Linked DNA regions of Homo sapiens. The protein of the gene in region 1 interacts with the protein of each later gene in a pairwise test. Each region holds a gene or a part of one and is shown in the gene's direction. Other genes may lie near its edges.

Region 1 (3,817 bases):
GGAGACTGAAATTAAAGGGAAAGGGATGCAGGTGAGCACAGACACTCTTGATGTCCAGAGAGCTAAGAAAGCATCCGAGATGGCCAGCCAGGTAAGACAGCAGCAAGATACAAAGTTTAAAATAAATGCCGTGAATCATAGCTGGAAAGAGCATAAGTTTTCTTTCCACATGGGTGGCTTTGAGATTCAAACATGTAAATTTCAACATCGCTATTAAAGCTTAAGCAAAGCTCTAAGATTATTTTCTGTTCTTTTAGAAACAATACAAGAAGGACTTAGAAAATGAAATTAAAGGGAAAGGAATGCAAGTGAGCATGGATATCCCAGATATCCTTCGAGCCAAGAGGACATCTGAAATCTATAGCCAGGTTGGTCATGAATGAAGATGCTCAGAATCGTGTATTCCAATGTCATGTTGCCATGTGCTTTGTATGTCTCTATGAATGATATCTTTCTGAGGGCATTGCATTCAGAGCTAGTGTACTCTTTCACTAAGAAACCATTGGCCAAACTTGATTAACCGTACTAATTAATAGGACAACAGTCATAGATTCAATGCAACAGACATTATGGAGAGCTACAGCCTCTCTGTCGGGGCTCCTTGTTTTGAGTCCAAGGACATTAAACCTTTTTTTTTTTTTTTTTTTTTTTAAATTTTAGAGATGGAGGTCTCACTCTTTCACCCAGGCTGGAATGCAGTGGCACCATCATAGCTTGCTGCAGCCTCAAACTCCTGGGCTCAAGCTTATCTTCCTGCCTCAGTGGGCATGAGCCATTGTGCCCAGCCCAAGGATATTTTAACCTTTTCTTTCTTTCTTTTTTTTTTTTTGACCCTATTGGACACTTGGCTCAAATGCTTTTGCTAATACTACAGAAAAATAAATTACAAACGTTTTGTCTTTTAACCATTTCATAATGAATATTAATATTAAAATAGTTCCAAATAAAGCTAACAGTGGCTAAAGCTGCACAAGGTATAAAGTGAAGTTTAGTGTTAGGTAAAAATTAAGGGAACAGTGAGGTTTTCTTGGTAAAATTTAGATTTGTCAAATATACTTGTCCCATATTCTGTAAACAAAGCTGGATGTGGGAGAAGTAGTGACCACAAAAATTTATGGAAGAAGAATTTATTTATAAAATCTGACTTGGGCAAAAACATTCATTAGCAAATAATATCTTTGCTGTAACATTTACTAAAAAAGAATGACTCCCAATGGAAAAAAATAGAAGGAATGAAAAAAATGAAAATGGTTATTTAAAATTGACCATAGCATTTAATTTGATTAATGGAGTTTATGCAGAAAGGATTGTGTAACAACATTTGGTGAAATTTGTTAAAATTCTGATTAAGACATAAGCAAGGACATTAACCATCCACTAGTTCAAAAGGGTAGTATCAAGATGGCAGAGTCAAATGTCAGAGGACTTGTGTGCCTCTCAGCCTCCGCAGCCGACACAGCCGCTGGGATGATCCTGAAGTGTGTGTTCTGTTCTCAGTGTTCGTGAACTTGGAGACATTGGCTTGGCCATATCAGCTTAACTAAAATCCTAAGTCAATGCATTAAACAACAAATAGACATTTGAGTCAGTGGAGAAGAGTTACTTACTCTCTCAAGAATGCCAAATTCATTCCTTCAGTAGGTAAATACCTCCTGAGCACCCATTTGCAGGCAAAACTAGACATGGCTTTGCTCTTGGAAAGCTACAGATAAATCTAATAATCATGTAAATATAGTATTACAACCATGATATATACACCTGAAAGTAAAAGTATTGAGAGTGAAGGTGCCTGAGCTGTCAGATTTCCTGCATTAACTCAACAGCATAGATTTTTTTTTAGTGTGGTGTGAGAATATATCTAATTTTAAGGGATTTTAATCACTGAAATACAATTGGGATACTTACGAGGGTGTAATGAAGCCTGGTGCATTTCAACATGAATAGTAGTTACCTTTCTTTTTTTTTAATTTTATTATTATTATACTTTAAGTTTCAGGGTACATGTGTACAATGTGCAGGTTAGTTACATATGTATACATGTGCTATGCTGGTGCGCTGCACCCACTAACTCGTCATCTAGCATTAGGTATATCTCCTAATGCTATCCCTCCCCCCTCCCCCTACCCCACAACAGTCCCCAGAGTGTGATGTTCCCCTTCCTGTGTCCATGTGTTCTCATTGTTCAATTCCCACCTATGAGTGAGAATATGCAGTGTTTGGTTTTTTGTTCTTGCAATAGTTTACTGAGAATGATGATTTCCAATTTCATCCATGTCCCTACAAAGGACATGAACTCATCATTTTTTATGGCTGCATAGTATTCCATGGTGTATATGTGCCACATTTTCTTAAGTAGTTTGCCAGAATAATTAACTTCACTGATTTTGGAATCAGAGAGCCTGGTTTTAAGTTGAGGCTCTGATACTTACTATCTAGTACTTCAGTTTCTCCATCTGTAAGATGGAAATAATAATAGTATCTGCTTGTCAGGTTGATTAAATGAGTTAGTGTGTGTTAAGTATTTAGAACAATACCCATTACATAGTAAGTACAATGTAAGTGCTGGTACTAGGATAAGATATTGCCTGGGTTGTATTAGAGCTCATAGTAGCTCATTTAGTGGAGAGAAAATTAAGATTTTAATCTCAACTTCAAAATACTGTTAACTTTCCCTTAATCAAATCTATCTTCACATGAAGTAGGAAGCAAAGCGTAAATCTAGAAGCCATGTCGTATGGTAGAGATCGAAGAATGGTATCATTCTATCTCTGTCTCTCCACCTCTCTCTCTCTCTCTCTGGGAGTGTAAGTCAGTAAAAACAGTTTTTTACTCTCTCTCTCTCCCTTCCTCCTTTCCTGCCTCCCTCCCTCCCTCTCACATGTGCGCACACACATAGTTTCAGATTTATATTAACTGTTTATGTTTTTAGAGAAAGTATAAAGATGAAGCAGAGAAGATGCTTTCTAACTATTCTACCATAGCAGATACTCCTGAAATTCAGAGAATTAAGACAACTCAACAAAACATTAGTGCGGTGAGTAGCCATTACTTCTTTTAAGTTGCCACCTTGAAATTTTGTTTTGTAAGAAATGGTCTTTTTTCCTCATTGTCTGATGTTTTCTGCTGTCTTAGTTGAATTTTCTGTCAAGTGTATTATCTTTATTTCTTTAAAATAATAAGAATACTGATAATTTTTACAAATTATCATTTTTCATTATTTTTTTGGAATTACAAATTCAAAATTTCCTCTTCGGTATAAATGACAGTTATTAACTAAATTTTAAAATTTAACTCAGGAAAGAAGTCTGTCTTCTACACAGATTTTACTTTGAAGGTGAAAATAGTCATATGAAGTGATTTTATTCCTGGTTATTGATTGTTTTTACTGATAATATGTCTAACCATTTACTCATTCTTAATAAATTTCTAAACTTCTATATTTTTATTTTGAGGAAGAGGAATTGCATCAGCACTTTTTTTTTTAACTTTTATTTTAAGTTTGGGGGTACCTGTGCAGGTTTTTACATAGGTAAACTTGTGTCATAGGGGTTTGTTGTACGATTATTTTGTCACGCAGGTGTTAAGCCTAGTACCCATTAGTTATTTTTTCTGATCCTCTCCCTCCCCTCCTTCTTCACCCTCTGATAGGCCCCTGTGTGTGTTGTTCGCCTCTGTGTGTCCATGTGTTCTCATCATTTAGCTCCCACTTATAAGTGAGAAAATGCGGTATTTGGTTTTCTGTTCCTGCATTAGTTTGCTAAGTATAATGGCATCTAGCTCCATCCATGTCCCTGCAAAGGCCATGATCTCATTCTTT
Region 2 (3,817 bases), on another chromosome or scaffold:
GGAGGTCAGGGCTGCGGTGAGCCATGATTGTGCCACTGTACTCCAGCCTGGGTAACAGAGCAAGACCCGGTCTCAAAAACAAAAACAACAACAACAACAAAAATTTTTTAAAGGGGGAGTGAGATGGGAGAGAAGGGGGCCTTATTTCTCGGAAACCAGCCCTGCTGCCCTCTTCCCATGGCCACAGGAGCCTCCCCAGTGACGGAGTTGTGAGATTGGGGGTTTCTGGTGTCCTGACTTCCGTCCCAGGGATCACCTTGGGTTTCCCACGTTGCAGAGACTAACTGAAAGGACATGAGGGCTTTACCCTGGGAATGCTCTGCTGGGGCAGGTGGGTGTTAGCTGCGATTCTGTGTTATTTTCCCATCCTCAGAGGTCTGCGGGGTTTCCGAGAGGCTCGCCGGGATTTCTGGCGGGGGGCTGAGAGCCTGGAGGCTGCCCTGACCCACAACGCAGAGGTTCCCAGGCGCCGGGCCCAGGAGGCAGAAGAGGCAGGAGCTGCTTTGAGGACGGCTCGAGCTGGGTACCGGGGACGGGCACTGGATTATGCCCTGCAGGTGCCTGCCCCAATCTGTCTTCCTGGGGTACCAGAGCCTCAAGTGTCACCTCGAGGCTTGGGGGTCTCCAGTGTGCAGTGGGAAGGGGTGCTGTGTCTTCAAGACTGATCTGGGGTTTTTTACGTCCTCTTTTACGTCCTCAGATCAACGTGATTGAGGACAAGAGGAAGTTTGACATCATGGAGTTTGTGAGTTGTGGCGGGGGTGAGGGCAGGGTGGAGAAGAGCCTGCTGCCAGCACAAGGGAATGGGGAGAGGGGTTCTTCCTCAGCCTTCCCACTGCCCGCCTTGTCCCCCAGGTGCTGCGTTTGGTGGAGGCCCAGGCTACCCATTTCCAGCAGGGCCATGAGGAGCTGAGCCGGCTGTCCCAGTATCGAAAGGAGCTGGGCGCCCAGGTGGGGCCCCAGGGCACAGCAGGTGGTAGAGGGAGGTTAGGGACTCCTAACTGGGGGGCCTTGGACATCTGAGATGCCCTTCCTGTGCCCAGTTGCACCAGCTGGTCTTGAATTCAGCACGAGAGAAGAGGGACATGGAGCAGAGACACGTGCTGCTGAAACAGAAGGTGAGGGGCCAGGTGCGGTGGCCCACGACCGTCATCCCAACATGTTGGGAGGCTGAGGTGGGAAGATTGCTTGAGGCCTGGAGTTCAAGATTAGCCTAGGCATCGTAGTGAAACTCCATCTCTACAGAAAATTTTAAAATTAGCTGGTGTGGTGGCATGCACCTCTAGTTCTAGCTACTCAGGAGGCTGAGGTGGGAGGATTGCTTGAGCCCAGGAGTTCAAGACTGCAGTGAGCTATGATCACACAACTGCACTTAAGCCTGGGTGAAAGAACAAGACCCTGTCTCTAAAAATAAATTTTAAAAAGTATTTCAAAAAGCAGAAAGTAAGGGCTAGGGCTGTGGGCAGGAGGCAGATGCCTATGGCCTTGGTGTCTGCCCATCTCAGTTGCCCTTTGATCCTCTTGTGCCTCCAGGAGCTGGGTGGGGAGGAGCCAGAACCAAGCTTAAGAGAGGGGCCTGGTGGCCTGGTGATGGAAGGACATCTCTTCAAACGGGCCAGCAACGCATTTAAGACCTGGAGCAGGTGAGGAGAGGACACCCCCAATCAGCCCGCCCCACCCAATGATGTATTTTCGAGTGGTAATAGCACACTAAGCACTGCAAGGAAAAACAGACGAACCCCCCTGCCTCAGTAGAGTTTCATTCCATCAGCAAAGACAGAGGATAAACCTAGTATGTAAATTACGTGCTATGTTAGAAGGTGATAGTGCTTGCTATAGGAGAAAGATGATAAAGCAAGGGATGTGGGGAGCTGGGTAGGGGTTACAGTTCTAAATAGTTGGGCAGTGTGGGCTTCATGAGAAGGTAACTTTTGAACAAAGACTTGAAGGATATCTGGGGGAAGAAAGTTCTAGACAGAAGAAAGAGCCAGTGCCAAGGCCCTGAGATAGCTGGGGAGTTGGAAGAGCAGGGTGGTGGCCCTGGGTCTGGACAGAGTGAGGGAGGAGGATGTGCAGGAGATGAAATCGGAGCTAATGGGGGCATGAGTCATTATAGGGCCCTATAGATTTTTGTAGGGATTTGGGGTCTACTCTGAGAGCAATTGGGAGCCGCTATAGGGTTTGGAACAGGATGGTGGCATGCTGTGACTTGACTCCTTTCCCTTCTAGGGCCACTGCTAGCCCACATGGGATCTCTGTACAAATTAGAAAATGGAGCTGCTTCCCCAAGATACTCTTTTTTCTTTTTCTTTTCTTTTTTTTTTTCTGTTTTTTTTGAGATGGGGTGTCACTCTGTTGCCCAGCCTGCAGTGCAGTGGCGCAGTCTCGGCTCACTGCAACCTCTATCCCCTGAGTTCAAGTGATCCTCCCTCCTCAGCATCCTAAATAGCTGGGACCACAGGCGTGTGCCATCACGCTCGGCTAATTTTTGTATTTTTGGTAGAAACAGGGTTTCACCATGTTGCCCAGGCTGGTTGCAAACTCCTGACATCAAGCAATCCACCCGCCTCGGCCTCCCAACTTGCTGGGATTACAGGCGTGAGCCACTGTACCTGGCCCCCAAGATTCTTTCTTTTCTTTTTTTCTTTTTCTTTTTTTTTCTTTTTTGATGGAGCCTCGCTATGTTGCGCAGGCTGCAGCACAGTGGTGCGATCTCAGCTCACTGCAACCTCAGCTTCCTGGGTTCAAGCGATTCTCCTGCCTCAGCCTCCCAAGTAGGTGGGATTATAGCCGCCTGCCACCACGCCTGGCTAATTTTTGTATTTTTAGTAGAGACGGAGTTTCACCATATTGGTCAGGGTGGTCTCAAACTCCTGACCTCGGGTGATCCACCACCCCCATCAGCCTCCCAAAGTGCTGGGATTACAGGTGTGAGCCCAGCCTAAATAGTATTTTTTAAATTGTAGCAATAGACATTTTATTAGAAAAAGAATTTTACTGCCATCTGCTGGAAAGTTGTCTTCATAACTATATGAAATCTGGGTTGTCCAAGATAGGAATAGCATCCTTTAGATGTTCCAATCTGCACAATTGTCCACCCTTCTCTGGAATGTCTCGTGGAACAGTCAGCCCAGGTGTCTGTCCTCTCAGTAAGATCCTCATGGGCAAAAAGCACAGCCTCTCTTCCGTCCCTCATCCTAAAGCTGCCTATGTCTGTAATGATTTCCTTCTCTTACAGACGCTGGTTCACCATTCAGAGCAACCAACTGGTTTACCAGAAGAAGTACAAGGTGAGTGGACCTGGGTCCTGGATGCCTGGGCCCCAGGGAGACTCAGCTCTTGCCTGCAGCTGGACATCTGGCCCCTTATCACCTTATCCTGCCAGGACCCTGTGACTGTGGTGGTGGATGACCTTCGTCTCTGCACAGTGAAACTCTGCCCTGACTCAGAAAGGCGGTTCTGCTTTGAGGTGGTGTCCACCAGCAAGTGAGTGCAATCCCCAGGGGTGATACTCTAATATATCTAAACAACTGCCAATCTGAAAGGCAGGGCCCACCACAATGGAGGCCCCCCATGCAGCTCCAGACTTTAATTTAATTCTTTGGCGGCTGGACTGGGGGGCCATTGTGGAAGAGGGTACAGGGTGATGGGGGATATTTAGGAGAATATTACCAACTGGTACAGAAGTCTTTCAATGCAACTGGAACTGGTTGAATACTGGCTGAATGTCAGTCTGCCCATGCTGCCACTTTGCTTCCCAGGCCTCAGACCCCTCTGCCATCTCCCTCACCCTCCTACCTAGGTCCTGCCTCCTCCA

What was found.
Region 2: the proteins of NEBL (region 1) and ACAP1 interact in binary tests that used the Homo sapiens proteins (3 or more experiments, as listed by UniProt).

Annotation. Positions count from the first base shown.
Region 1 is NC_000010.11:20,827,747-20,831,563, reverse strand, and holds part of NEBL (nebulette), read left to right. Parts: coding exon 1-91; intron 92-257; coding exon 258-368; intron 369-2,929; coding exon 2,930-3,034; intron 3,035-3,817. UniProt on the Homo sapiens protein: Binds to actin and plays an important role in the assembly of the Z-disk. May functionally link sarcomeric actin to the desmin intermediate filaments in the heart muscle sarcomeres.
Region 2 is NC_000017.11:7,343,006-7,346,822, forward strand, and holds part of ACAP1 (arf-GAP with coiled-coil, ANK repeat and PH domain-containing protein 1), read left to right. Parts: intron 1-373; coding exon 374-557; intron 558-700; coding exon 701-745; intron 746-855; coding exon 856-951; intron 952-1,043; coding exon 1,044-1,118; intron 1,119-1,533; coding exon 1,534-1,643; intron 1,644-3,238; coding exon 3,239-3,290; intron 3,291-3,385; coding exon 3,386-3,486; intron 3,487-3,802; coding exon 3,803-3,817. UniProt on the Homo sapiens protein: GTPase-activating protein (GAP) for ADP ribosylation factor 6 (ARF6) required for clathrin-dependent export of proteins from recycling endosomes to trans-Golgi network and cell surface.